2 separate regions of the Homo sapiens genome follow, and region 2 is linked to region 1. Evidence: fine-mapped expression QTL. A gene starts in region 1. The other region holds a variant in brackets. All regions are shown on one strand. Distances are between the middles of the regions.

Region 1 (15,427 bases):
CAACTTAGGGTTCTGGGGGTCATGGAGCAGAGGCAGAAGCCTGGAGCCTTCCACCCTCAGGACTAGAGCCCCGCCAGGAGGCCAGGCGCATGCTCAGAACCCCAGGCCGCAGGGAGAGGCTGGCCGGTCACATCCTTCTCTGAGGCAGAGGGAGCTTCCCAGCAGGCGAGGGCAACTCCACCACCCATGTCCCCCTCCAGGGCCAGCGCCAGGTGACATGCAGCCATGTCACAAATTAGGTCCGGCTGCATCGTGACCCCAAACGGAAAACAGCAGCACTCACGGACACCCCAGCTTCGAAGTTCTAACTGTGAAGCCACTGAAAGTTGTGATTACGGGAAACGCTCCCCACCCCCACAAGTTCTGGTGACACTGAGGTGTGCTGCTCCTTGCACAGGACGAGGAGGGACCCCTGCAAGCAGGAGCCCAGGATGTCTGGTGTGTGGGCGCCATCACCATCACCTGCTGGCAGAGGGAAGCCTCAGGGCACACACAGTGCAGGACACTGATGTGGGCTCACAGGGAAGCCCCGCCTTGCCTCAGTGGAGCAGACGGCCTCCTCAGGGCACTGCCAACGGCCCCCAACTCCACCGTCTGCCTGGCCCCTCCAGCCACGCTGAGCCTCAGTCCTCACCCACCCTTCTCTCTGCACAGTCTCTGCTCGGGTGCCCCGGGACGCTGGAGCACCAGTGTGGTTTCCCCCGTGGGGCCTGGCTTCCAAGGTCAGGACCCTCTGGGGACTCTCCTGAGGCCTCTGGTCACCTGCCCTGATGCCTTAGTTAAATATTCCAGAGTAAACTGCGAAGCTGTATCAGGCTTAGTTCTCAATTAATAGGCAAAACACCTAGGAAAGACAGTGGCCTTGGGACTAGAAAACGACAGCTCAGAGAGAAAGCTCAGCTTTCAAGATGAAGCTGGAGGAAGGGGCGGCTGGGGCCTACTTGTGTGCCAGGGAAACTGAGAAGCCACCAAGGTTTCCAGCCCCCTGTGATCACCACTGTGACGAGGGAGGAAGGATGCCAAGTGGGCACCTAGAGAGCCTGCCTGGGAGACAGAGGGGCTGCCCAGAGCAACAGATCCCCTCTCTCCTCCCCACTCTCGGCCCAGGCACCACCTGCGCCGGTCCCCAGGGGCTAAGAACCCGCCGCCTCGCAGCACTTCCCCCAGGACCACCACAGTTGGTTGCTGGGCCTGCGCCTCCCTCCAGAGAGTGTGCCTGGGCTCAGAGGCGTCTTGGGGCCACCTGACAGCGCTGGCTCTGAGCTTGTTCTGACAGCACCCGGGTGACAGACTTCCAGCTCTGCACTGCTCCACACCACCATCCTCCCCCGGCAGGGCACAGTGAGGGCAGTGCGCTGTCACCAGGCCCGGATGCACTTAACACTGTGCCTGCCCGGGAAACCCTGCGTCTGCTGCCATGACAACTTGCTTTCATTACTGTTGTTATCATCCCAACAGACATCCAAGTCTTGGCAACTGTGACACAGCTGCAAACTCTGTGCCCAGCAGTCCTAGGAAGATACCCAGGGAGTATGAGCATGGAAGACGATGGGGAGGGAAGAGCAGGAGAGAAAACTCAATGAAGCCCAAGCCAGTTCTTAGAAAAGATCAAAAACACGGATCAACTTCTAGCAAGAGAGACAAAGGGAAAAAAAGACACAAAACACCAACATCTGAAAGGAAAAAGGAGGCCACTGTGGACCCCGCAGATATCAAAAGGATAAGGGAATGCTTCGAACAACTCTCTGGGCAAATTCAACAACTAGGTCAAGTGGACCAATTCCTCAACACAAGCGGCTAATTCACCCCAGGTGAAACACAGCATCTTAAATATAACTAGAACCTCAGTGATGAAAGAAGCCGAAACCACAGTGCAGAATCTTCTGAGAAAGAAAGCTTTGGGACCAGATGGCTACGCTGGTGAATTCTACCAAACATTTCAGAAAGAAAGAACACCAACTCTACATAATGTCTTCCAGAAAATAGAAGAGGAAACGTTTCCCAACCCATTCCATAAGGAGCAGAACCCTGATACCCAAGACAAGGACGTTACAGGAAAAACTACAGGCCAATATCCCACGCAAGCATCAGCAGGAACCCTCAACAGAACATCCGGCGCTGAGCAAAGCAGCTCATGCCGCTAATCCCAGCACTCTGGGAGGCCAAGGTGGGAGGATGCCTTGAGGTCAGAAGTTCGAGACCAGCCTGAGCAGCAAAGCAAGACCACATCTCTACAAAAAAAAAAAAAAAAAAAAAAAAATTGGCGTTGGCTCACACCTGTCATCCTAGAACTTTGAGAGGCCAAGACGGGAGAATTACTTGAGCCCAGGAGTTCCAGACGAGCCTGGTCAACATGGCAAAACCCCATCTCTACAAGAAAAATACAAAAATTAGCTGGGTATAGTAGGGCGCACCTGTAGTACCAGCAACTCAGGAGGCTGAGCTGGGAGGGTCACTGGAGCCCAGGGGGTTACGACTGCAGTAAGCCATGACCACTGCACTCCAGCCAGGGTGACTGAGCAAGACCCTAGACCCTGTCTCCCCAACCAAAAAAAAATTTTTTTAATTAGCTGGGCATGGTAGTGCATGCCCGTAGTCCTAGCTACTCTGGAGTCTCAGGTGGAAGGATCTCTTGAACCCAGAAGTTCCAGGCTGCAGTGACCTGTGATCACACCACTGCACTCCAGTCTGGGCAACAGTGAGACTTTGTCCCAGAAAAAAAAAAAAAAGCTGGGTGCGGTGGCTCACGCCTGTAATCCCAGAACTTTCAGGGGCCAAGGCAGGTGTATCACTTGAGATTAGAAGTTCAAGACCAGCCTCACCAACATGGTGAAACCCCATCTCTACTACAAATACAAAAACCAGCCGGGTATGGTAGTGGGCTCCTATGTAATCCCAGCTACTCAGGAGGCTGAGGCAGGAGAATCGCTTGAACCCAGGAGGGGGAGGTTGCAGTGAGCCCAGATTGCGCCACTGCACTCCAGCCTGGGCAACAGAGCGACACTCTATCTCAAAAAAAAAAAAAAAAAAAAAACTCAAGGAGTGTATTAAAAACTCTTAGGGGCCAGGTGTGGTGGCTCACACCTGTAATCCCAGCACTTTGGGAGGCCAAGGCGGGTGGATCGCCTGGCCAACATGGCAAAACCCCATCTCTACTAAAAATACAAAAACTGCGGCCGGGTGCAACAGCTCACACCTGTAATCCCAGGACTTTGGGAGGCCGAGGTGGGCGGATCACGAGGTCAGGAGATTGAGACCATCCATGTAACCCCGCCTCTGCTAAAAATACAAAAAATTAGCCGGGCGTGGTGCTGGGCGCCTGTAATCCCAGCTACTTGGGAGGCTCAGGCAGGAGAATGGCATGAACCTGGGAGGCAGAGCTTACAGTGAGCCGAGATTGTGCCACTGGACTCCAGCCTGGGTGACAGAGCAAGACGCCGTCTCAAAAAAAAAAACAAAAAACTTAGCTGGGTGCGGTGGCGGGTGCCTGTGATCCCAGCTACTTGGGAGGCTGAGGCAGGAGAATCTCTTGAACCTGGGAGGCGGAGATTGCAGTGAGCCAAGATGGTGCCACTGCACTCCAGCCTGGGCAACAAGAGCAAGACACCAGCTCAAAAAAAAAGAAAAAAAAAAAAAAACCTCTTAGAACAAGTAAGTTTAGCAAAGCCATAGGAAACAGGACAACACACAGAAATCAACCATATTTATATAAACAAGCAATGAAGAGTTGAAAACTAAATTAAAAAAATTCCACTTATAATAACTCCTAATAGAGCTTAGGTACACATCTAAAAAATGTCCAGAGGGCCAGGCACGGCAGCTCATGCCTATAATTCCAGCACTTTGAGAGGCTGAAGTGGGGGGGGATCACTTGAGGTCAGGAGTTCGAGACCAGCCTGGCCAACATGGTGAAACCCTGTCTCTACTAAAAATACAAAAATTAGCCAGGCGTGGTGGTGGGCTCCTGTAATCACAGCTACTTGGGAGGCTGAGGCACGAGAATCGCTTGAACCCAAGAGGCAGAGGTTGCAGTGAGCCGAGGTTGCACCACTGCACTCCAGCCTGAGTGACAGAGCGAGACTCCATCTCAAAAAAAAAGTCCAGAAGCTGTATGCTGAAAACTACCCAACACTGACAGACTATATCAAAGAAAATCTAAATGAATGCAAACATACACTGTGTTCCATGGACTACAAGATTCAACATAGAAAAAATGTCAGCTGGGCACAGTGGCTCCCACCTGTAATCCCAGCACTTTGGGAGGCCGAAGAGGGCGGATCACGAGGTCAGGAGTTCGAGACCAGCCTGGCCAATGTGGTGAAACCCCGTCTCTACTAAAAAATATACAAAAATTAGCTGGGTGTGGTGGCGTGTGCCTGCAGTCCCAGCTACTCAGAAGGCTGAGGCAGCAGAATCACTTGAACTCGGGAGGCGGAGGGTGCAGTGAGCTCAGATCGCGCCACTGCACTTCAGCGTGGGTGACAGGGTGAGACTCTGTCTCAAAAAAAGAGAAAGAAAGAAAAAATGTCAGCTCTCCCTAAATATATCAAGAGGTTTAATGCAATTCCAATGAAAACCCCACCAGGACTTTTGTACAGGTTGAACATCCCAAATCCAAAAATCTGAGATTATAAATGCTCCAAAACGGCCCGGTGCAGTGGCTCACGCTGGTAAACCCAGCACTTTGGGAGGCTGAGGCAGGTGGATCACGAGGTCAGGAGATCGAAACCATCCCGGCTAACACGGTGAAACCCCGTCTCTACTAAAAATACAAAAAATTAGCCGGGCGTGGTGGCGGTCGCCTGTAGTCCCAGCTACTTGGGAGGCTGAGGCAGGAGAATGGCGTGAAGCCAGGAGGCGGAGCTTGCAGTGAGCCGAGATAGTGCCACTGCACTCCAGCATGGGCAGCAAAGCGAGACTCCGTCTCAAGAAAAAAATAAAATAAAAAATAAATGCTCCAAAACATGAAACTTTTTGAGTATCAACACGATGCTCAAAGGAAATGCTCACTGGAGCATCTCAGATTTCAGATTTTTCGATTAGGGATGCTTAACCAGTAATTATAATGCAGATATTCCAAAATCAGAAAACTCTGGTATCCAAAACACTTCTGGTCCCAAGCATTTCAGGTAAGAATATGTGACCTGCAGAGATGCACAAACTTACTCTAAAATTAAAAAGAGAAAGGGAAATTAATAGCCACAACAACTTTGAAAAGGAAGAACAAAGGTTGAGGGACTCACAATATCTGATTTCAGGACAATATAACAGGTATAGTAAAAAAGCGTGTGATGCTGACAAAGGAAAACGGCACCTGATCAACAGGGCAGGACACAAGGCCCAGAGACAGACCTGCACGGACGGGGCCCAGTGAGCACAGCCGAGGGAGCAAAGGCCTTCAGTCTTTCAACAAACGGTGTTGAAACAAGGGGACCTCCAGATAAACAATGAGCCTCAGCCTACAAAGCACACCTTATACAAAACATAGATGGACCACAGATTTAGGCCAGGTGCGGTGGCTCGCGCCTGTAATCCCAGCACTTTGGGAGGCTGAGGCAGGCGGATCACTTGAGGTCAGGTGTTCAAGACCAGCCTGACGAACAGGGTGAAACCCTGTCTCTACTAAAAATACAAAAATTAGCCAAGTGAGGTGGCGCACGCCTGTAATCCCAGGTACTTGGGAGGCTGAGGCACGAGAATCACTTGAACCTGGGAGGCAGAGGTTGCAGTGAAACGAGATTGTGCCACTGCACTCCAGCCTGGGCCACAGAGCAAGATTCTGTCTCAAAAAAAAAAAAAAAGTTAAAACTTCTGCTTTGAGGCCGTGCGCAGTGGCTCACGCCTGTAATCCCAGCACTTTGGGAGGCCGAGGTAGGCGGATCACGAGGTCAGGAGATCGAGACCATCCTGGCTATCACAGTGAAACCCCGTCTCCACTAAAAAATACAAAAAAAATTAGCCGGGCATGGTAGTGGGCTCCTGTAGTCCCAGCTACTCGGGAGGCTGAGGCAGGAGAATGGCGTGAGCCTGGGAGGCAGAGCTTGCAGTGAGCCGAGATCGAGCCACTGCACTCCAGCCTGGGCAACAGAGCAAGACTCCATCTCAAAAGAAAAAAAACTTCTGCTTTGAAAATCACATATACAACAAAGGGCTTGTAACTACAATCCACAAAGAACTCCCAAAACTCAACAATAAGAAAACAACCCAAATAAAAAATGAGAGTCAGGGTGTGGTGGCTCACGCTGTAATCCCAGCAATTCGGGAGGCCAAGGCTGGAGTATCACTTGAGCCCAGGAGTTTGAGACCAGCCTGGGCAACATAGAGACCTTGTCTCTACTAAAAATAAAATAAAATAAATGATCACAGCATGGTGGCATGCACCTGTAGTCTCAGCTACTCAGGAGGTTGAGGCAGGAGAATTGCCTGAGCCTAGGAGTTCAAGGCTGCAGAGAGCCATGACTGGGCCATTGCACACCAGCCTGGGCCACAGAGTGAGATCCTGTCTCGAGATAAATAAAAAAATAAGACTTGAGCACACATTTCAACAAAGAGGATTCGGGCATGGCAAATAAGCACCCTAATAAGGTTGAACATCACTAGCCAGTAGAGAAATACAGAATACCACTATGATGAGATGCCACACACCTGTTAGAACAACCGAAATAAAAACATCGACAACACCAAGTGCTGGTGAAGATGTGGGGCAACTGGTGAGAATGCATAATGGCACAGCCACATCACAAAACAGTTCATGACAGTTTCCCATAGAGTTACACATACAGCTAAGTTCCCCAGAGAAATGAAAACGTATGTTCACACAGAGAGCTGCAAATGAATCCTTTTAGCAGCTCTATTCACAACCACCTGAAACTGGCCACAGTCCAGCTCCTTCCACAGGCTGGGGTCCATCCCCAGCCCGCAATACTGCCCATCACTGAAACGTCCCCTCCGAGGCCTGCAGCAGCCTGAGTGGCCCTAGGGCATCCGCCCGGTAACCACCAAGGCCAAGGGCAGCAGCAATCGGATTCTAAGTACCAGACATTGCTGAAAACAAAACTGCAGGCACAGAGAGTGACAGTGAGGGGCAGCTTGAGGGGCCTTCTGGGCTCCCCAGGCTCTCTTCAACCCTCCCTGTGCTGGCTGCCCTGGCCCACGCGTGTGTCGAGGAAGTCCACGCACGCCACGGGGGTCCACAGGCGCGCGAAGAAGGTCTACATTCTCGCCAAGGGGATCCACACTCGCGCCCAGACGGCGCAGAACCGCGCGCCCCGACAGAGCGTGCGGTACCGAGGCGCTGGTCCCGGCCGCGCCGTCACCGCCTCCAGCCCGCCTAAGCCGCACCGAGAAATCCGCGCAGCGCCAGCCCGCGGGACTCACCGTCCAGGGACACGAACTGGCCCACGGCCGAGGAGCCGCCGCCGCTGCTCTCCACGAACTGCACCTCGGACACGATGATGTTGTCCTCCAGCACTGAGCCGCAGGCGGTGCACACCGCGTCCCCGCGCGCCGCGTCCAGCTCGATGTCCGTGCCGCCGCAACCGCGGCACACGCGGCCCGTCATGCCGGCGACCGCGCGGGCAGCGCCCGGAGCCTCCCAAGACTCTCAAGCCACCCGAGCCTCCGGAGCAGCCCGCGCCGCCCGCCCAGGCCCAGCCGCCCAGGCCTCGCCGCTCTCGCGAGGCCCCGCTCCAGCCGATTCGCAGCCGCAGATTCGCCGCGCGCGCCCGGGCCGCGCCGCCCGCAACGGCCGCGCCCGCGGGATGGGACAGGCACCGGGACCACGGCGGGGACGCGAGGACTGGAGCCGCGACCTCCCCACTGCGAGCGAGCTGGCCTCCCTTGCGGCGCGCCGGCGTCGGAGGGGCGACCTGCGGGGGCTGGGCTTCGGCGGAACCCGAGCGGGGCCTACCGGTGAGCGCAGCCGAGGACTGGCGCTTGGGGGCGGGGCCACGGCGGTGAGCGCAGCCCGGGACTGGAGTTTGGGGCGGGGCCTCGTCGGTGGGCGACACCGGGGACTAGAGCTAAGGGTGGGGCCTCGCGGTGAGTGCAGCCGGGGACGGGACCCAAGGCTGGCGACGGGACCCAAGGCTGGCGACGCGACCTAAGGCAGTGGGCGGGCCCTTGGCGATGAACGCAGTCGGGGACTAAAGCTGGACGCGGGGCAGAGGAGGGTCCTCCTCGGATAGTGAGCGCGGTCTCCAGCGGCGAGCGAGGCCTGGGGTGAGGACTCAGCCGGATGCGGGGCTGAGGGTGGGGGGCGGGGCCTCCCGTGGAGAGACGGCCTGCGAAGGGAACTGGAGCTGTGGGCGGGGGAAGGGGGCGGAGCCTGGGTCTGGACCCGAACTGTGGGCGGGGCTTGAGGCGAGGGGGCCGAGCGTGGTGGGCGGGGCCTTGGCTCCTGAGGGCGACCTGGGACCCAACCCCGGGCTCTGGGAGTGGTGGGCGGGGCCAGGGCAGCTGCGCTGGGGGGCCTGGCCGCAGAGGTGGAGACACCCGCCAGGGGCCACCCTGCCCCGCCCTCCGCATTTGCGGCGTCCGCCGCTCCGCTCGCCCAGGTTCCAGAGCCTCCCCGTGCGCCCCGCTATTCTCCGTTTTCTGTTCCCCTAAAATTCCCACTTTCTAGCAGTCATTCGTGGCCACCTGTGGTTACCCGTGAGTCACCTCGCTGTGCCCCCTGCCCAGAGCGGGAACCCTGGCTGCGCACGCCCTCAAATATCTGCAGGTGCTGTTCACAATCGCCATAGGGCCGGTGACATACCCAGGAATGAGCCTAAAAAGAAATGCGTAACCAGGCGTAGTGGCTCACGCTTGTAATCCCAGCACTTTGGGAGGCCAAGGCAGGCGGATCACGTAAGGTGAGGAGTTCGAGACCAGCCTGGCCAACATGGCGAAACCCCGTCTCCACTAAAAATACAAAAAAATTAGCCAGGCTTGGTGGTGGGCGCCTGTAATCCCAGCTACTCGCGAGTCTGAGACAGGAGAACCACTTGAACCTGAGAGGTGGAGGTTGCAGTGAGCTGAGATCCCGCCATTGCACTCCAGCCTGGGTGACGGGTGACAAGAGTGAAACTCTGTCTCAAAAAAAAAAAAGAGAAAAAAGGAAATGCGGAAGACCCCACCCTCTTTTTTTTCTTTCTTTTTTTTTTTTTTTTGAGACGGAGTCTCTGCTCTGTTGCCCAGGCTGGAGTGCAGTGGTGAGATATCGGCTCACTGCAACCTCTGCCTCCTGGGTTTAAGCGATTCTCCTCTCTCAGCCTCCCGAGTAGCTGGGATTACAGGTATGCACCACCACACCTGGCTAATTTTGTATTTTTAGTAGAGACGGGGTTTCTCCATGTTGGTCAGGCCAGTCTTGAACTCCCGACCTCAGGTGATCCGCCCACTTCAGCCTCCCAAAGTGCTGGGATTACAGGCATGAGCCACCGTGCATGGCCCTATTTCATTAATTTCTGCTCTCATTTTTGTTAGATCCTTCTTTCCACTTAATTTGGTTCAATGTGTTCCCTTTTTCTAGTTTCTTCATTTTTTAAAAATTGAGATAGTGTCTCATTCTGTCACCCAAGGTGGAGTGCAGTAGCATAATCAAGCCTCACTGCAGACTCTACCTCCTGGGCTCAGGTGATCCTCCCACCTCAGCCTCCCGAGTAGCTGGAACTACAGGCATGTGCCACCACACCCAGATAATATTTTTTGTAGAGATGGGTTTTTGCCTCATTTGCCCAGGCTGGTCTGGAACTCCTGGGCTCAAGTGAGCCACCCGCCTTGTCTTCCCAAAGTGCTGGGATTACAGGCATGAGCCACTGCTCCCCGCCCTGTCCTCCCAAAGTGCTGGGATTACAGGCATGAGCCACTGCTCCCCGCCCTTTCTCTAGTTCTTTTTTTTTTTTGAGATAGAGAACACCCAGGCTGGAGTTCAGTGGTGCCATCTCAGCTCACTGCAACTTCCACCTCCCAGGTTCAAGTGATTCTGTCACTTCAGCCTCCCAAGTAGCTGGAATTACAGGCATGTGCCACCACGCCCAGCTAATTTTTGTATTTTTAGTAGAGATGGGGTTTCACCATGTTGGCTAGGCTGGTCCCAAACTCCTGACCTCAAGTGATCCACCTGTCTTGGTCTCCCAAAGTGTTGAGATTCTACACGTGAGCCAATGCACCCGGCCCCTTTTTCTAGTTTTTGTTTTGTTTTGTTTTTTGAGGTGGAGTCTCGCTCTGTCACCCAGGCTGGAATGCAGTGGTGCGATCTTGGCTCACTGTAACCTCCACCTCCCGGGTTCATGCCATTCTCCTGCCTCAGCCTCCCAAGTAGCTGGGACTACAGGTGCCCACCACCATGCCTGGCTAATTTTTTGTATTTTTAGTAGAGACAGGGTTTCACTGTGTTAGCCAGGATGGTCTTGATCTCCTGACCTCGTGATCCACCTGTCTCGCCCTCCCAAAGTGCTGGGACTATGGGCGTGAGCCATCGCGCCTGGCCTTTTCCTAGTTTTTTAAGGTGAAAGATGAAATCATTGATTTAAGATCTCTTTTCCTTTATAAATAGGCATTTTATTGCTATAATTCTCCCTGTAATTACCACTTTAGCTGAATCCTGCACATTTCAATGTGCTGTGTTTTCATTTTCATTCAGCTCAAGATTGTCTCCACTCTTAATTTCCTCCCGGATCCAAGGGTTATTAGGAAGTGTATTGTTTTGTTTCTAAATGTTGGGGATTTTTCAAATATGTATTATTGATCTCTATGCAAAATGCTCTCTGTCCATGATGACATTTCATCCTTATGGCAACACTAGCTTGCAGACACTGTTGTCTCCATTTTATGGAGGGAGCCCTTGAGGATGTGAGGGGTGACAGCCCCAAATCTCATAGCCAGTAGGTAACAAAGCCAGAATCCAATCTGAGGCCATGTGGCCACTGGATCCTTGCTCTCACCTGACAGACTAGAGGGGTTATTTCGTGTGCTCCCTCACCAAAGCCTGTGAGGTGCCTGCAGGTGCAAGGGGCAGCATGCCTCCCAGGCCACAGCGGTGCAGGACAGTCAGGCAGTACAGGACAGTCAGGCTGTACAGGACAGGATTGGCCAGAGGAGCAGAGGGTGGGGAAGACCACACCCACAACGGTAAGAGGTTTAAAGGGTGTGGTTTCAGCCAGGCTCGGTGGCTCAGGACTGTAATCCCAGCACTTTGGGAGGCTGAGGAGGGCAGATCACGAGGTCAAGAGATCAAGACCGTCCTGGCCAACATGGTGAAACCCATCTTTCCAAAAAATACAAAAATTAGCAGGTGTGATGGTGGGCGCCTGTAGTTCCAGCTACTCGGGAGGCTGAGGCAGGAGAATTGCTTGAACCTGGGAGGCGGGAGTTGTGGTGAGGCGAGATGGCGTCATTGCACTTCAGCCTGGACGACAAGAGTGAAACTCCATCTCACAATAAATAAAATAAAATAAAATAAAATATAAAAAAGGGTGAGGCTCTACTGGGCAATGGCCCAAGGTGCGTGCTGCCAGAACTAAGCCTTTGCTCAGATGGGCTGCAGAGGAGGGGTGCTATGGTCTGAATGTGCATTGTATCAGTCTGTTTTCACACTGCTGATAAAGACATACGTGAGACTGGGCGATTAACAAACAAAAGAGGTTTATTGGACCTGTAGTTCCACGTGGCTGCAGAGGCCTCACAATCATGGAGGAAGGCAAGGAGGAGCAAGTCACGTCTTACGTGGATGGCAGCAGGGAGAGAGAGAGCTTCTGCAGGGAAACTCCCTCTTATAAAACCGTCAGATCTCGTGAGACTTATTCGCAATCACAAGAACAGCACGGGAAAGACCTGCCCCCATGATTCAATTCCCTCCCACCAGGTCCCTCCACAATATGTGGGAATTCAAGATGAGATCTGGGTGGGTACACAGAGCCAAATCATATCATGTGTGTTCCCCCAAAGTCCATATGTTGACGTCCTTGCCCCAAGGCGATGGTTTTAGAGAGGTGGGGCCTTTGGGAGATGAGGTCATGAGGGCTGCTTCCCTCATGAGCGGGATTAATGCCCTCAGAAAAGTGGCTGGCTGGGCACAGTGGCTCACATCTGTGATCTCAGCACTTTGGGAGGCTGAGGAGGGAGGATTGCTTGAGTCCAGGAGTTTGAGACCAGCCTAAGCAACATGGCAAAACCCTGACTCTACAAAAACTACAAAAACTTAGCCGGTTGTGGTAGCATGTGTCTGTAGTCCCAGCTACTTGGGAGGCTGAGGTAGGAGGATTGCTTGAGCCCAGAAAGTTGAGGCTGCAGTGAGCTGAGATCACACCACTCCACTCCAGCCTGGGCGACAGATTGAGAACCTGTCTCAAAGAAAAAAGAAACAAGAAAAAAGAAAAAACGTGGCTGGAGGGAGCTTGTCTGCTGCTTCCCCCATGTGAGGATGCAGGAAGAGGGCACTGTCTATGAACCAGGAAGTGGCCCTCACCAGACACGGCATCTGCCAGCACCGTCCTGTGAAATGAATAGTGGTTTATAAGCCACTTGGACTGTGGTGGTTTGCCATTGCAGTGTGAACCAACTGAGGCAGGGAGTAACGCTCCCCACGTGATGTGAAGGCATAAAGAATGGAGCCAGGTTAGAGGGAGAATGCGGAGAACTGCCCTGGGGACCGGTTAGGTGCCCCATGCTGCAAGCGCCCCAGGAAGCTTGGAAACATTTAGGACTGACTGACAAGCTCAAAGAGTCAAGCAAGGGCGGCCAAGGGGCACCAGTGCCCTCAGAGCACCCACACTGGGCACCCAGCACCAGCTTCCTGTGCCCAGGGTCCTCTGTACTCCTCATTCAGCCCTGCAAGGCAGGACCCTCACTCGCACCGCGCCAAAGAGGACGCTGGAAACGTGCAGTGATCTCCGCTCTGGCTGTAAACAGGGAGAGGCTGTGGGCTTGCCCCTAGACCTGACTCCAGCACACAGCAGCAGAGCGGGGCCCAGGCTGGGGGTGTGGGGCAGGAACATTCCTTCATGGGGGCCCCAGAGAGCTGGAAAGTAATGTAGGTGTTGCACTGAAATGAGAGAATTGCTTTAATCTGAACTGAACGTGCTCGTAACACTTAGACCAGGAAGGATTTCCTTTTCTCAGGGCCTGAGAAAAATGACCTGACCAGCAGGGTTAGAGTTTTGAAGGACACGCCTAGGCACCTGCAAACTTCCCCTCCTGGAGGCTTTCTTCATTCATGGTGTCTTTTGTTTTTGGGTTTGTTTTGTTTTGTTTTGTTTTGTTTTGTTTTTGAGACACAGTCTTGCTCTGTCCCCCAGGCTGGAGTGCAGCGGCGCCATCTCGACTCAGTGCAACCTCTGCCTCCCAGGTTCAAGCGATTCTCCTGCCTCAGCCTCCCGATTAGCTGGGATTACAGGTGCATGCCACCATGCCCGGCTAATTTTTTGTATTTTTAGTAGAGATGGGGTTTCACCATGTTGGCCAGGATGGCCTCGATCTCCTGACCTCGTGATCTGCCCACCTCAACCTCCCAAAGTGCTGGGATTATAGGCATGAGCCACCACACCTGGCCTGTTTTTTGGGGGTTTTTTTTGAGACTGAGTCTCGCTGTGTCGCCCAGGCTGTAGTGCAATGGCACGATCTTGATGTACCGCAATCTCTACCTCCCGGGTTCAAGCAATTCTCCTGCCTCAGCCTCCCAAGTAGCTAGGATTACAGGCACCTGCCACTGCGCCCAGCTAATTTTTGTATTTTTAGTAGAGTCAGGGTTCCATCATGTTGGCCAGGCTCGTCTTGAATTCCTGACCTCAAATGATCCATCTGCCTTGGCCTCCCAAAGTGCTGGGATTACAGGCGTGAGCCACCGTGCCAAGCCCCATCGTGTTCTCATCTGTGGTGCTTTGACATCTTGGGGTCTCGTGGACCTAGAGAGGGACTCCCCTCCCAGGGTTAGCTAATTCCTAGAGACAGCTGACCACTTGCCTCTGAGTATGCCTTATTTACTTTATTTTTTCTTTTTTTCTTTTTTTTTTGAGGCAGGGTCTCACTCTGTCACCCAGGCTGGAGTGCAGTGGTATGATCATAGCTCACTGTCGTCTCAAACTGCTGGGCTCAAGAGATCCTTTGGCCCCAGCCTCCCAAAGTACTGAGATCCCAGGCTTGAGCCACCGTGCAGGCTGAGCATACCTTTGATATGCAGAGCAACCATCATGAGTCCCACCTGCCTCCTTTCATCAGGCTCCTGCATTCCTGAACACTAGCCCCCTGCCCTAAATCACCCCAAGGCCAGGTACCAGCTAGCTAGATACCACCCCCAAGCCCAGAGCCCACTGAAATGACCCAGTTCTAATTCTGCTCAGCTTGCCTCCTCTGCCTTGCCTGGAAAATGGCAATAAAGGCTCTTGCCCACCCTTTCCCTTCACCCCCTCCCTGTCCTGACTGGCCCTGGGTGCTTCCCCACGTGCCCCTCCTCCTGGGAACTGTGAGTAATAAACTCCTCTTTCAAAGGCGGTTGTCTCTGTGTCTGTCATCTTATCACATTTGATCAAAATAACTCCTGGGTACTCAATAGCCCTGTCCCCCCATGCAGCAGTCAGCAGGGGAAATGAGAAAGCAAGCTTCTATGGCCTTCTCACCTTCTCACCTGCTGCCTGGCCTTGGGCAAGTGCTTCAATCTCTCTAGGTTTCTACTTCCTCATCTGCATAACAGGGATAAGAATAGCCCACCCTAGCACTGCGGAGTATGATGGAGGACATGTGTCTGGTAGACAGACTGCTCAGAAGGCAAGTCCCTGTTCCTGTCTGTTCTCCGCAACTCGAGTGAGACTTGGTGAGGCTCCAGTCCACCTTCCACCACAGAAGTCAAGGGCCAGGCCAGGACAGTGGCTCACGCCTGTCATCCCAGCACTTTGGGAGGCAGAGGTGGGAGGATAGCTTGAGCCCAGGAGTTCGAGACCAGCCTGGGCAACAAAGTGAGATCCCTGTCTCTACAAAAAATTTAAAAATTAGCTGTGCGTGGTGGTGCGTGCCTCTAGTTCAGCTACTTGGGAGGCTGAGGCAGGAGAATCGCTTGAACCCAGGTGACTGAGGCTGCAGTGAGTTATGATCACACCACAGCACTCCAGCCTGGACCATAGAGTGAGACTCTGTCCCCCCCAAAAAAACAATTAGGCCGGGCACAGTGGCTCACACCTGTTATCCCAGCACTTTGGGAGGCTGAGGTGAGAGGATTGATTGAGCCCAGGTGTTTGAGACCAGCCTGGGAAATATGGCAAAACAGCATCTCTAACAAAAATACAAAAATTAGCCAGGTGTGGTGGTACATGCCTGTGGTCCCAGCTACTCGGGAGGCTGAAGAGGGAGGATTGCCTGAGCCCAGGAGACAGAAGTTGCAGTGAGCTGAGATGGCACCATTGTACTCCAGCCTGGGCACGACAGAGGCAGATTCTGTCTTTTTTTTTTTTTT
Region 2 (15,427 bases), 32 kb before region 1:
GCTTGCAGGGAGAAAAACTGCAGATGGGTCCTGACTCAGACACACTTTCCTTACATGGAAAAGTTTACAGAGATTTACATAAGGCAGAACTAAAACTTAAAAAAACAAGAAATTTCTCTCAACAGCCTCACATACAAATGCTCTTACTGGATACCCAAAGAGAGAAGCGAGGGAAAGTGCTCTTGTATATAGAGCCCCACAGAAAGGGCTGTGTCCACAACAGCCAGCAGTGCAGGGGCCGGCAGGGCCCCACCCTGAGCGGACACCAGCATTCCCGGCCCCATGGGACTGGAGAGGGGGACTGCGGCGCCCACACGGCGTGAGGACCAAGGAGCGAAACCCACACCTTCTGGAGAATGATGCCCAGCACTGCACCGGCCCACGGCTCACTGCCCCTACCCAGTGCCACTCCCCTTCTGCAGGCCCCCCCTGCTCTGAGTGCTCCTCACCGGCAGCCAACACCACCTGGCACGGGAACACACGGCCCGGCCGAAGCTCCGTGTAGAGCAGTAGTGCCCAGCCCCAACCCACCAAGGGCAAGGCCCTGGCAGCACTCAGCATACAGCACTCAGCGGCCGACCAAGCACCCACACAGGAGCCCGGCAGGCAGACTGGGCATCCTCAGGCCCCGCACATGCCTGGACGGGGCTATGACGGATCCTAGCTTGGAATGGGGTCACTCACCCCAGAGCTCGGATGCCCTCAGCACCCCAAGAGCAGGACCCATCAAGACCCAGGGCCTAGGTCATGAGCAGCCCTGCCCTCCCGAACTTCCCAGAGACCACCCTGCTCCTCCGCCTGGAGGTGTGGCACAGAGCAGGTGCTCTGGGAGTCCCTGAATGACTGATGCGGGGTAGGAGACCTGCTGGCTGCCCTTTGTCCAGATACCTCTGACCTCCAGGGAAGAGCCAGTGGGTCATTGCTGGGCCTTGCCCATCCCCTGCACAGTGACTAAATCCCTGAGCCACTGCTGGCTGCCACACCCCACGGTGGGCTCCTGTGTGCAGTACACCCTGAATAATCTAGCACCTCACCGCTGTCATCATGCATGGCCTCTGTGAAGTTCAAGGGTACCCAGGTGCCTTCTCAAAGATCCCTGCTCTGAAGACTGAGCCTCCCACAGAGCTGGGAGCCTGGCTCTGTCCCAGCCACACTGAGGTGGTCTCACGGATAATGCAGCTGCTATCCAGGCAGTCACCTGACGCTCCCAGCCCCTGGCTTTCAAGCACACACATGCAACCAGGCACATGGATGGCCCCAGGAGGAGCTGAGTGGCACGAGTGTAAGGTGCAGTGTCTCAGCTCGGGCCTCCTTCCAATTCTCGCCAATTCTAATAAGCTGTCATAGTCTGGCAGTGCCAGGCCAGGATTGCCTGAGGACAGGAGTTCAAGACCAGCCTGGACAACATAGCAAGACCCCATCTCCATTTAAAAAAAAAAAAAGTGGCTGGACACGGTGGCTCACGCCTGTAATCCCAACACTTTGGGAGGCCGAGGCGGGCAGATGACAACGTCAAGAGTCCGAGACCAGCCTGGCCAATATGGTGAAACCCTATCTCTACTAAAAATACAAGTTAGCCAGGCATGGTGGTGGGCACCTATAATCCCAGCTACTCGGGAGGCTGAGGCAGGAGAATCGCTTGAACCCGGGAGGCAGAGGTTGCAGTGAGCCGAGATGGCACCACTGCACTCCAGCCTGGGCAACAGAGTAAGACTCCATCAAAAAAAAAAAAAAAAAAAAAGTAGGAGCCTAGTGCTCACAGTCTCGCTTGGCAAGGGAAGATAGAGTTTACAGTTCAGTGGCTTCCGAGCCAGCCAGACACGAGGGGCCAAGCTGCCAAGAGAAGAGGAAGCAACTTCAACAAGCGAGCAGGGCACAGTGCACTTAGTCCCTTTACGGCAGCTGCCGCCCCTGGAGCCACAGGCACCAGGCTGAGGCCCGCCAAGCCCAGAAGTCAGCTCTGAAAGGCAAAAGAGCCGAGCAGGAAGTTCTGCAGTCCCGAGGTGCCAGGAAGGGACACCTGGGTCCTGCCACGATCCTTCAGCCGGGAACCAAGACGGACCAGCAGCAACTGGATCAGAGTGAGCTACCTGCGTGCTCTCTGCTTGCTCAAGAAAAGTTAAATTCCCGGCCGGGCGCGATGGCTCACGCCTGTAATCCCAACACTTTGGAAGGGTGAGATGGGCGGACCACGAGGTCAGGAGATCGAGACCATCCTGGCTAACACGGCGAAACCCTGTCTCTACTAAAAATACAAAAAATCAGCCGGATGTGGTGGCGGGCACCTATAGTCCCAGCTACTTGGGAGACTGAGGCAGGAGAATGGCATGAACCTGGGAGGCGGAGCTTGCAGTGAGCAGAGATGGTGCCACTGCATTCCAGCCTGGGCAACAGAGTGAGACTCTGTCTCAAAAAAAAAAAAAAAGAAAAGTTAAATTCCCTCTGGATGGAAAAGTATCCATCATCTCTGTAATATTTTAGACCTAATATTCCAGCGATTCAATGAAAAATTACCAAGCATGACAAAAGACAAGACCAAAGGAACAAAAACAAAAAGAAAATCAAGATAATAAAAACAGAACCACAAATGATTCAACTATTTGGCTTATCAATGACTTTCACCTAACTATGAAGAAATGAAGAATCTTACCAAAGAACTGGACTCTAATAAAAGGAGTCTTAGTGATGGCTCACATCTATAATCCTAGCACGTTGGGAGGCCAAGGCAGGAGAATAGCTTCTGCCCAGGAGTTCAAGACCAGGCTGGGCAACATAGCAAGACACCATTCTCTACAAAAAATAAAGAGCCCAGGAGTTCAAGACCAGCCTGGGCAACACAGTGAGACCTCATCTCTATAAAAAATTGATGGCCAGGCGCGATTGCTCACACCTATAATCCCAGCACTTTGGGAGGCCGAGGTGGGCGGATCACGAGGTCAGGATATCGGGACCATCCTGGCTAACACAGTGAAACACCGTCTCTACTAAAAATACAAAAAAAAATTAGCCGGGCATGGTGGCGGGTGCCTGTAGTCCCAGCTACTCGGGAAGCTGAGGCAGGAGAATGGCATGAACCCGGGAGGCAGAGCATGCAGTGAGCCGAGATTGTGCCACTGAACTCCAGCCTGGGTGACAGAATGAGACTCCATCTCAAAAAAAAAAAAAAAAAAAAAAAAATTGAGTGGGTGTGGTGGCGCATACCTGTAGTCCCAACTACTATGGAGGCTGAGGTGAGAGGATTGCTCGAGCCTGGGAGGTCAAGGCTGCAGTGAGCTGTGACTGCACCACTGCACTCCAGCCTGGGCAACACAGCGATATTCCATCTCTTAAAAAAAAAATTAAGAAGTTAGTAGATGGGTTCAACACCTGATTAGACACAGCAAAAGAAAGGATGAGCAAAAGAGAGAAAGGCTAATATATGGAGTCCCAGAACAGGAAGAGAGAGTGGAGCAGAAACTTTATTTGAAAAGATACTACCCAAGATGTCTCCAACGTAGACAAAAGACATCAAGTCATAAGTTCTACTTATCCTTTTTTTTGTTTTTTTTTTGTTTGTTTGTTTTTTTAGAGACAGGGTCTCACTCTGTCGCCCAGGCTGGAATGCACTGATGCACTGATGTCATCACAGCTCACTGCAGCCTTGACCCCTGGGCTTAAGTGATCCTCCTGCCTCAGCCTCCTGAGTAGCTGGGACTACAGGTGTGCACCACCACACCTGGCTAATTTCTTTTATTAGCCTAGGCTGGTCCTAAACTCCTGGCCTCAAGTGATCCACCCACCTCAGCCTCCCAAAGCGCTGGGATTACACCCATAAACTACCACACCCAGCCAAGTCACAAATCCTTGAACTTCTACAAAAAATAATCTGGATAAACACAAAGAAAACCACATCTAGGTACATCAGAGTCAAACTGCCAAATCCAAACACAAAAATATTTCTTAAAAGCAGGTAGTGGGCCGGGTGCAGTGGTTCACGCCTGTAATCCCAGCACTTTGGGAGGCTAAGGTGGGCAGATCACCTGATGTCAGGAGTTTGAGACCAGCCTGGCCAACATGGTGAAACCCCTCTCTACTAAAAATACAAAAATTAGCTGGGCATGGGCCAGGCATAGTGGCTCACACCTGTAATCCCAGCAGTATTGGGAGGCCGAGGCGGATGGATCACGAGGTCAGGAGATTGAGACCATCCTGGCTAACACAGTGAAACCCCTTCTCTACTAAAAATTCAAAAACAAAATTAGCCAGGTGTGGTGGCGGGCACCTGTATTCCCAGCTACTCGGGAAGCTGAGGCGGGAGAATGGTGTGAACCCGCGAGGCAGAGCTTGTAGTGAGCTGAGATCATGCCACTGCACTCCAGCCTGGGCGACAGAGCAAGACTCCCTCTCAAAAAAAAAAAAAAAAAAAAATTAGGTGGGCATGGTGGCATGCACCTGTAATCCCAGCTACTCGGGAGGCTGAGGCAGGAGAATCACTTGAACCCAGAGGGCAGAGGTTGCAGTGAGCCGAGATGGCACCACTGCACTCCAGCCTGGGTGAGGCAGTGAGACTCTGTCTCAAAAAAAAACAAAACAAACAAAAAACCGTGTGATGTAACGAAACTCACCTAGAGAGAAATTTATAGCCTCGAGTGCTTATGTTAGAAAAAACAGGCCAGATACAATAGCTCACACCTGTAATCCCAACACTTTGGGAGTCCAAGATGAGAAGATAACTGGAACCCAGGAGTTTGAGGCCAGCCTGGGCAATACAGTGAGACCCCATCTCTAGTGCACCTATGGTCCCGGCTACTCGGGATGCTGAGGCGAGAGAGTCGCCTGAGCCAGGGAGTTGGAGGTTGCAACGAGCTAGGGTGGTGCCACAGTGGTACAGCCTGGGAGAACAGAGCAAGACCCTGTTTCTAAAAAATTTTAAAAAATTAATCAGTGTTATTTACGTTAGGTAACAGATTAAGGGGAAAATGTACATGAAAAAATCATACCAATAAATACATTGGTGTTTGATAAAATTCAGTATTTTTCATGACAAAAACTCTTGGAAAATTAGAAAGCAAGGTAACATCCTCAAGCTGATAAAGAGTCCTATACACAAAAGTCTACCGCAGATACATAGAGCGAAGGGCAGAAAACACCCCTCCCAGGACAGGAGAGAGCCAGGCACATCTCCCTCCCCAGGACCATGCTGAGTCCTCGGCATACAAAAGGCAGGACAAACAGATGAGAGGTGTGTGGGTTAGAAAGGAAGAACCAAGGCTGGGCGGGGGGTTCACACCTAGAATCCCAGCACTTTGGGAGACTGAGGGAGGCAGATCACTTGAGCTCAGAAGTTTGAGACCAGCTTGGACAATACAGCAAAACCCCGTCGCCACAAAAAGTACAAAAATTAGCCAGGGGTGGTGGTGTATGCCTGTAGTCCAGCTACACGGGAGGCTGAGGTGGGAGGATCGCTTGAGCCTGGGAGGCAGAAGCTGCAGTGAGCCAAGACTGCGCCACTGCACTCCAGCCTGGGTGATCAAGTGAGATCCTGTCTCATGAAAAAAATGAAAAGAAAGAAGCAGAACTGGCATTATGAGCAGCAGACACAGTTGTGTGCATTAAAGGAGAGACTCCAAAACTCAAACAGTAAGATCGACAATTGAATTTGGTAGGAATGATGTATTAATAATGTCAACATACAAAACTCAGCTAAACCTCTGCTACGCCAGCAACAAGACACCACCGACAAGGGGCCCACATGGGCCCACGCTGGGTGTGCCGGTGTTTCCAGGTCAGCCTTTCGGAAGTCTGAAATGGCAACTTTTTTTTTTTTTTGAGACGGGGCTCACTCTATTGCCTAGGCTGGAGTGTAGTGGTGCGATCATGGCTCACTGCAGCCTCGACCTCCTGGGTTCAAGCGATCCTCCCACCTCAGCCTCCCCAGTAGGTGAGACCACAGGTACACACCACCAGCTGGATTTTTTTTTTTGTTTTCTTTTTCTTTTGTAGAGACGGGGTTTCACCATGTTGCCCAAGCTGGTCTCAAACTCCTGGACTCAAGCAATCCTCCTGCCTGGGCCTCCCAAAGTGATGGGATTTACAGGCGTGAGCCACTGTGCCTGACCTGAAATGCCAACGTCTTCATGCCTAATGATGTGTGCACCATTTGATTCCCTCATCAGCCATCCTAATACCTTCTTCTGACCACTTAAACTGTTATAAATGCCCTGTCCTTGAGAAGGCAGCAGAGGGAGAGGAGCAGGAACAAGGGGGCCTGGTGGCAGAAGGAGGTGCTGGCCAGAACAGGGGGGCAGAGAAGTGTGGGCTCTGAAAGCCCATCCCAGACCCCAGAATGGAATAAGCTGAATGCACATGGCCCCTGCTGACCTGAACGGACGGTTCTGCAGCCTGAGAGAGGAGCTGGGTCTGAAGGGAGTGTGGCGGCTGGCGGCAGAGGCCTTGCTCCCACGCGTGGCCAGGCACGCCATGGAGGCTGAGGCTGGCAGGCCATGGAAGCTGGGCATGCTCTTTGCAGACCTACGTGGGGACAGGTGATGGCACCATCCACAGTGCTGGCCCCAGGGCTCTGACGCCCTCTAGGGCTCACCAGCCTGTCACCATCCCAAGATGCCCTCTCACATGCAGGCCTAGGGCAGCCTGGCTGGACAGGAACAAATGTCAAAGACCCACAAACCAGCTGTGGGCAAAAGCTGCAATAACAAGTCGAGACACACAGCCAGGAAAAGCACACTGGCCACAAACTACCTGCTCGACAATGGCAGAGGTGCTCATTCCAGCTGAGTCTCTGCCCGGCATGTCCAGGTCCCGTGTCTCAGCCCTGCTGCCCACGCAGCCTCCCTGGGCTGGGAGCCAGGAGCAGACTCAGGCCTAGGGTCAGCCGGGCCTTGCCAGACTCAGTGGGACTCAGCAGCACCCCGTTCCTCCTCCAGGAATCCGGGACTGGCTGTGTCAGCCACCAGGCTACGGGGCCAAGAGAGGAGGTGTGTGTGCACAGCCCCCGGCACTTTCGGGGTGATAGTGGACACACCTGAGGATCGGGCAACAATGAAGGGTGGGCAGAAGGAGGAATAAGCTTGGATGTTCTTAAATCAAGCCCTTGTTCCTTCTGAGAGAGGATTTCTTGTATCCAGCCCTGGGCTCAGGGCACTGGTCCCACCCATGGGCTGGACGATACGATAGGAGGATCCTGGGGGGCCTCTCCTGGGGTGGGGGCCATGCACCCCACAACGTAAGCTCACTGCACAGGACCCTCCACGTCCTGCTGACGGCAGGGTGGAGGTGGGGTGGTGGGTGCTGTTGCGCCCTGGCTAAAGGTGGCGAGTCCAGAAGGTGACGGGAGCTGTGCAGGCAGCAGGGCTGGGCCAAGCAGCCCTGTCTCGGAGAAGAGAGCCTGGCTGCACACACCCTCTCCTGGGTGGATTTTCTGTGGAAGGGAAGTGGGTGGAGCTATTGAGGAAACTGAGGCAGCACATGAGCCCAGCCAGCCAGCTGGGGCTGCAGGAGGCGAGGACAGTGGCCAGAGCCAATGCAGGTCAGCAGGGAGGGAGAAGGCACAGGGGCAGGAGAAAACAAGGAGGGCGGTGAGAGACGGAGACGTGTCCAGGATGGGTCTGGGGGCTCTGGCTGGCAGGCCTAGGGCACGGTGCTGCCCGCAACCTGAAGGGAGGGCAGAGCGGGACATGCTACACCTGGCCTGACCCACTTCCCTCTAAAGTGCCGGCAAAGCAGGGGTGGGCTGGGAAGTGAGGGCTACAGCTACCCGAGACCAGCCCGAAGCATCCTCTGAGGATGCTGAAGGGAGCCCCACCAGGCCACCAGCAGCCAGAGGGGATAGAGTGCGGCCTCCCGTGAGCACAGTCCTGTTCCAAGCTGTCTTGTCCTTAGCAGCTTTATAAGGTACAAGTTTGTGCCACAAACCTGCCTGTTCACAGTGCACCGGGCAGTGGGTTTTCGTAAATCCCCAGAGCTGAGCAACCACCACCAGGATCTAATTTTAGAATGCGTGGGGGACACGGGGTGGCTTCCTGGATGCTGCCACTGTGAGCACTGTGCGTGAGCCTCGGTGGGGACACAGGTACTCTTTTCCCTTGGGCACACACTTAGTAGGAGGATCGCTGGAGCGTGTGGGAACTTTGTGGCTAAAGGTGGTCCTGCCAGACTCAGAGGCAGCCCCGGCAGTGCCACAGGACTGCTCTCCGTCCTGCCTGTCATCACCCCATGAAGGCCCATGTCCCAGGGCATCTGTCCCCCCCACAGGAGGCCCAGTGAGGCAGCAGCATGGACGTGGTTCCACCCCACCTTGCTGACGCTGGGGTCCCAGTGCCGGCCTGCACCCTAGGCCCTGCTCCACAGCAGTCCCCACACAGCTCCTACAAACACAAGGGAGGCAGGGCCATGGGCTGACCCTGGGCTCTGCTCAGCTTCTCGCTCAGGACCTTGGTCTGCTTCTAAGAGAGCAGGATCGGAGCAGGCCTCTCAGTGGGACCCCAGGGTGGAGCCGGGGCAAGCAGACAGCAGGCGGGGCGGGCAGGGACGCGGGCGTGGGCTCTGTCTCTCGCCCTGCAGTGGGCTGCCTGGGCACTCTGCATCATCCCTGTCCCTAAAGGCACACGTGTGCTTTAAACACTTTTACGCAGAAATGACAAATTTCAAAATGTTGAAAGGACTTTTTTTTTTTTTTTTTGAGACGGAGTCTCACTCTGTAGCCCAGGCTGGAGTGCAGTGGCGCGATCTCGGCTCACTGCAAGCTCCGCCTCCCGGGTTCCCGCCATTCTCCTGCCTCAGCCTCCCGAGTAGCTGGGACTACAGGAGCCTGCCACCACGCCCGGCTAATTTTTTTTGTATTTTTAGTACAGACGGGGTTTCATGGTGTTAGACAGGATGGTCTCGATCTCCTGACCTCGTGATCCGCCCACCTAGGCCTCCCAAAGTGCTGGGATTACAGGCGTGAGCCACCATGCCCAGCCCAAATTTCAAAATGTTAAAAGGACATTTTCAGGGTTGGATGCAGTGGCTCATGCCTATAATCCCAGCACTTTGGGAGGCCAGGGCGGGTGGATCACTTGAGGCCAGGAGTTTGAGACCAGCCTGGCCAACATGGGGAAACCCCATCTCTACTAAAAATACAAAAAAATTAGCCAGGTATGGTGGTGCACACCTGTAATCCCAGCTACTCGAGAGGCTAAGGCACAAGAATTGCTTGAACCTGGGAGGCAGAGGTTGCAGTAAGCTGAGATACTACCACTGCACTCCAGCCTGGGTGACAGAGCAAGACCCTGTCTGGAAAAAAAAAAAAAAAGTAACATTTTAATGAAAGATCCTGATACTGAGGGTTGCCTGGCCAGAGGCACCGTCAGCAGGCTACCAGCTCGTCATCTCCAGGAGCCCTCCCTGCACCCCACTCAAAAGAGAAGCA[G/A]GCCACCAGGATCACCTGGCACCCAGGACACCCCTCGAGGGGGACCAACCAGAAAAACAGACCAAGACAGAAAAGAGCTCAAGGTGAGAAGATGCCACACTCAGGAAGACGGGAGATTATAAAAAAGATTCGGAAAAGACCCAGAGCTCTTAGAGATGAAAAACATGAAAGAAATGAAACAGCCTGCTGGAAGCTAAAGTTCAGGTGCTGTCCCAAAGCAAAAAGATAGCCACGTGCAAAAAAGGATGAGATAACACATGGGTTCAGTGTGGCAGGCAGAGTAACAGAGAAGAAGGGAGACACATCTAACGACGAATTCAACAGAAGCTCAGGACAGGAAGCTGTCAGAGAGCAAAGGCCTGATGGGCTCACACTGCCGTGAGATTTCTGAACGTGGAGATTAGAGGCAAGGAGCTGAAGCCCCGCAGCTGCACAGCAAGGGCCAGGAGCCAGAGGGCCACAGAACTGCCCAGTGAGAATGCTGGAGGCAAGGCGACGGCAGGGGCGCAGGCTGGGAGGCAGACATGTGGCCGGGCACGCCACGCCCACCAGACACAGGGCAGGGAGGGGGACCACCTTCAGAGGGGCGCAGCTCGGAAAAGGTCCCTCTCCCAGGGAGCCATTGCAGGAGGCACCTCACAAGATGAGGAGGGTGTGGACCAGGAAGCGGGGAGTCCCCAGAGAGCAGGGAAAAGATGCAGGTGCACAGCAGGTGTGGACAGCACAGCACAGAGCAGAGGAGGCTGGAAGGCTCTGGGCTCCCTGTCAAGAGGCCGAAGGCAGCTCCTGACCCATGTGTGTGTCTGCAGATGGCAGCAGTGGGCACAGGACCAGATGCACAGAGACCAGTGCAAGAGAACACCAGACACTGGATCTCCACGCAAGGCCAAGCTGCACACCGCTGAGGGTCGGCAGCCTCCCCGCCCACCGCCTGCAGTCACGGTGTCCACGCACAAGGCCAAGCTGCACACCGCTGAGGGTCGGCGGCCTCCCCGCCCACCGCCTGCAGTCACGGTGTCCACGCACAAGGCCAAGCTGCACACCGCTGAGGGTCGGCGGCCTCCCCGCCCACCGCCTGCAGTCACGGTGTCCACGCACAAGGCCAAGCTGCACACCGCTGAGGGTCGGCGGCCTCCCCGCCCACCGCCTGCAGTCACGGTGTCCACGCACAAGGCCAAGCTGCACACCGCTGAGGGTCGGGGGCCTCCTCGCCCACCGCCTGCGGTCACGGTGTCCACACACAAGGCCAAGCTGCACACCGCTGAGGGTCGGCGGCCTCCCCACCCACGGCCTGCAGTCACGGTATCCACGCACAAGGCCGAGCTGCACACCGCTGAGGGTCGGCGGCCTCCCCACCCATCGCCCACAGTCACGGTGTCCACAGCTGCAGGCACTCGGTGTACGCCTGGCTGCAGCCCACTCAGCAACAGCACCCCACCTGCTCAGGCCAGAGGGCGGCCTGAACCACAGGGGACGTGGAGACAGCACCCAAGGCGCAGTAGGTCCACAAGTGGGGAGAATCCAGGGCATGATTCTCAGGCACCGACAGAACCCTCGCTCTGCATGCCCAAGGGCTGTGCGAGGAAGGCAGGTGCCCAGCTCCCCAGTTCTTCGATCCAGTAAAAGGAGACCCCAAATTCAGAAAGCCCTGGATCAACTGAAACAGTTCTTCCAGTAAGGTGTTTTTCTATTAAAGACAAACACCAAGTTACTGCAACTACCAAGTCCCAATATTCGAGGGGAGCCAACTAAGCATCAAGATGGGGCCCTCTGGGAGGCTCTCAAACCAAAGGATACGCGGCGTGCCCTCCGTACGGCAGACCAGGTAGAGGCAGGCAGCAATCACGTGGGCCATCTTCCGGCCGCGGGTCAGGTGCCTGCTCACGGCCATCTTGAAGAAGTTGAAGGCGGTGTCCAGGCAGTGCTGGTTCAGCTGCAGCTGGTTCCCCAGGTGGTGGATGTGGCGCCTCCCTAGGACACAGCACGAGGCAGCTCTTAGCCAAATGTTCCCACAGAACATGAAAAGTATCACACGGCCACAGCAGCAACTTTAAGAATATAGATTTGTGCTTTTCCTTGTAAGTTTCTGAGCTCACTTTTTATATGTGGGTTCCAATCACTTTTTATTTAAGGACACTGAAATGTGAATTTTCTGTGATCTCCATGTGCCATGAGATCCTGTTCTACCTGTTTCCCTTCTTTAGGCTCTGAGTGGCGTGTGCGGTGTGGCTGAATGTGCCTCTCTCCAGGGCTCTGAGGTGCGGCGTGTCTGGCAAGGGCTTGGTTTGGGCTGGCTGGCAGGTGCTATGCCCCTGACTGCCCTGGGCTACAGTGGGAATGCCCCTTTTCCTACAGCCACATGCCCCAGCGCCACCGCCTTCCCCAACCGCACAGAGTCTGGGTCAGCCCACCCGTCCCTTCTCAGCAGGGCCCATTCTGCTCAGCCCTGCGCCCGCCAGCCTCTCCTCTAAGAGCCAGCCACCCGGCCTGAGAAAAAGCCAGGCTAGCGCCATCCCCTGCACCTGCCCAGAGGGAGGGCCATGGTGTAGGGAAAAGGAAGAGAGGTCAGACTGTTACTGTGTCTATGCAGAAAGGGAAGACATAAGAGACTCCATTTTGACCTGTGCCCTGAACAACTGCTTTGCCCTGAGGTGTTAATCTGTAACTCTGCCCCAGCCACTTTGCCCCAACCTGGAGCTCACAGAAACCTGTGCTGTATGGAATCAAGGTTTCAGGGATCTAGGGCTGTGCAGGACGTGCCTTGTTAACAAAGTGTTCACAGGCAGTATGCTTGGTAAAAGTCATCGCCATTCTCCAGTCTCGATGAACCAGGGGCACAATACACTGCGGAAAGCTGCAGGGACCTCTGCCCTGGAAAGCCGGGTATTGTCCACGGTTTCTCCCCATGTGATAGTCTGAAATATGGCCTCGTGGGATGAGAAAGACCTGACCGTCCCCCAGCCCGACACCCGTGAAGGGTCTGTGCTGAGGTGGATTGGTAAAAGAGGAAGGCCTCTTGCAGTTGAGATACAGGAAGGCCTCTGTCTCCTGCCTGCCCCTGGGAACTGAATGTCTCGATATAAAACCCGATTGTACACTTGTTCAATTCTGAGATAGGAGAAAAACCGCCCTATGGCGGGAGATTAGACACGTTGGTAGCAATACTGCCTTGTTATTCTTTACTCCGCTGAGATGTTTGGGCGGAGAGAAACATAAATCTGGCCTATGTGCACATCCAGGCATAGTACCTTCCCTTGAACTTAATTATGACACAGATTATTTGGTTCACATGTTTTCTTGCTGACCTTCTCCCCACTATCACCCTGCTCTCCTGCCGCATTCTTCTTGCTGAGATAGTGAAAATAATAATCAATAAAAACTGAGGGAACTCAGAGACCGGTGCCGGTGCAGGTCCTTGGTATGCTGAGTGCCGGTCCCCTGGCCCCACTGTTCTTTCTCTATACTTTGTCTCTGTGTCATTTCTTTTCTCAGTCTCTCGTCCCACCTGACGAGATATACCCACAGGTGTGGAGGGGCAGGCCACCCCTTCACCATGGTAAGGGCATGCCCAGCAGACCGGAGGCCACTGCGCCCTCCTAGGGGCTGCGAGGTGCTGGAGGTGGCCAGGACGGCAACATCCGAGCACACGCGCCTCCCTGGAGCAAGACCCTCCCAAAGCTGCGGGCCACATGATGGCATCAGGAGGGAAATGGCAAAGCTGCCCTGCAGGCAGGAGGAACCTTGGGAAACAAATGTCAATGCAGAGTACAGGCCAACCTCACTGCCCCACTCTGTCTGCAGAGCACAGGCTGTGTGGGGAGCACCTGGGCCAACCTCACTGCCCCCACTTCTGTCTGCAGAGCACAGGCTGTGTGGGGAGCACCTGAGCCAACTTTACTGCCCCCACTTCTGTCTGCACAGTGGGCGTCGTGGGCAGGCAGAGTCCTTGCTCCAGGCAATTAGCCCCATGGGGTACCCAGAGGACATGTGTGGTGGGTCACGGCTCGATGCAGAGGAATGCTGCCGCCATGGAGATTCCAGTTCCCACTGCATCCTCTGGCACCCAAACCCACAGTCCTCCTGCAAAGACTACCTGAGGCGGCCTCCATCCCCATATAAAGTCAAAAACTGACCTCCCAGATTTATTTGATAAGGGCACATGAGCTGGAGAAAGTGAGGGCTGATGTTTTGCTCACGCCAAACTTCACTAATGATGACCAGCAGCCAGAGGTGGGCAGCTGCTGAGCCTGCATCCCAAGGAAGCCGGTGGCCAGGGTACACAGTCTGGCAGGTCCAGGTCAAGCCTCACACTGCCAGGCCCCTGGCAGTCAGCAGCATCACATGGAGCCCCCAGCCCGGCTGTGGCCCTGCCACCTTGAGCACCTAAGGCCACCTGCCTAGAGCTCATACAGCTCTGAGGCCTGCAGTCCAGCTGAGCTGACGTGGAAGGCTGGTCACTGTCCCCAGAGCTGAGGCCTGGGCCAAGCCAAGACCCCAAAAGAATGGACAGAAAGGGCATCGTGCCAGCTGCCACCTGCACATGTGCAGCACCAGCCAGACACACCAGCACAGACCGTCCCCGCGGCCCAGCAAGGCCCAGAGGGAAACAGAGTCAGCTGACAGGGGACCCGCTGAAGCTACGGCTCCTTACCTACCAGCTCTCTGCTGTATGTTTGAAAATTCTGTAATAAAAGGTAAGAGAGAGGTACTCTCTGAGGCCACACACTTGAGGCTGGGACTCGATCCCAAGCCCCGACCCCACAGGCACCAGCTCGTGTTCCCAGCATGCAGGGCTGCTATGGTCAGAATGTCTGACTCCTAAAATTCCTATGTTGAAATCCTATCCCCTACGGGGATGGTATTAAGATGCAGGGCCTTTGCGGGAGACTAGGTCAGGAGGCAGAGCACTAATGATGAGCTCAGTGCCCTTAAAAACCGGACCCCAGAGAACTAGCCCAGCTCTTCTACCACGTGAGGCCACAGTGAGAAGGAGCTGAGAGGCGGCCCTCACTAGAGAGCTGGGGAGGAGGCCACAGTGAGAAGGAGCTGAGAGGGGGCCCTCACTAGAGAGCTGGGGAGGAGGCCACAGTGAGAAGGAGCTGAGAGGCGGCCCTCACTAGAGAGCTGGGGAGGAGGCCACAGTGAGAAGGAGCTGAGAGGGGGCCCTCACTAGAGAGCTGGGGAGGAGGCCACAGTGAGAAGGAGCCGAGAGGCGGCCCTCACTAGAGAGCTGGGGAGGAGGCCACAGTGAGAAGGAGCCGAGAGGCGGCCCTCACTAGAGAGCTGGGGAGGAGGCCACAGTGAGAAGGAGCCGAGAGGGGGCCCTCACTAGAGAGCTGGGGAGGAGGCCACAGTGAGAAGGAGCCGAGAGGCGGCCCTCACTAGAGAGCTGGGGAGGAGGCCACAGTGAGAAGGAGCCGAGAGGCGGCCCTCACTAGAGAGCTGGGGAGGAGGCCACAGTGAGAAGGAGCTGAGAGGGGGCCCTCACTAGAGAGCTGGGGAGGAGGCCACAGTGAGAAGGAGCCGAGAGGCGGCCCTCACTAGAGAGCTGGGGAGGAGGCCACAGTGAGAAGGAGCCGAGAGGGGGCCCTCACTAGAGAGCTGGGGAGGAGGCCACAGTGAGAAGGAGCCGAGAGGCGGCCCTCACTAGAGAGCTGGGGAGGAGGCCACAGTGAGAAGGAGCCGAGAGGGGGCCCTCACTAGAGAGCTGGGGAGGAGGCCACAGTGAGAAGGAGCTGAGAGGCGGCCCTCACTAGAGAGCTGGGGAGGAGGCCACAGTGAGAAGGAGCCGAGAGGCGGCCCTCACTAGAGAGCTGGGGAGGAGGCCACAGTGAGAAGGAGCTGAGAGGCGGCCCTCACTAGAGAGCTGGGGAGGAGGCCACAGTGAGAAGGAGCCGAGAGGCGGCCCTCACTAGAGAGCTGGGGAGGAGGCCACAGTGAGAAGGAGCCGAGAGGCGGCCCTCACTAGAGAGCTGGGGAGGAGGCCACAGTGAGAAGGAGCCGAGAGGGGGCCCTCAC

Evidence for each region. PIP is the estimated chance that this variant, and not a neighbour inherited with it, causes the effect.
Region 2: its variant is the best candidate, but not a certain one, in a credible set for the expression of BRF1 in whole blood (TOPMed, PIP 0.87).

What each region holds. Positions count from the first base shown.
Region 1 is chr14:105,293,069-105,308,495 of GRCh38, forward strand. It overlaps BRF1 (BRF1 general transcription factor IIIB subunit), which reads right to left and starts at 7,933. Exons shown (of 18, transcript NM_001519.4): 1 at 7,378-7,933. The coding sequence starts at 7,561. It also overlaps the pseudogene LOC124903409 and a transcript of PACS2 not described here. RefSeq lists enhancers at 5-154, 305-424, 1,065-1,194, 6,675-6,754 and silencers at 7,605-8,014, 8,245-8,614.
Region 2 is chr14:105,261,515-105,276,941 of GRCh38, forward strand. It overlaps BRF1 (BRF1 general transcription factor IIIB subunit), which reads right to left. Exons shown (of 18, transcript NM_001519.4): 3 at 11,207-11,380. Among named protein-coding and RNA genes, the nearest start is that of BTBD6, 21 kb to the left of the region's middle. RefSeq lists an enhancer at 12,686-13,589. The variant G/A (reference allele first, on the strand shown) is at 9,410.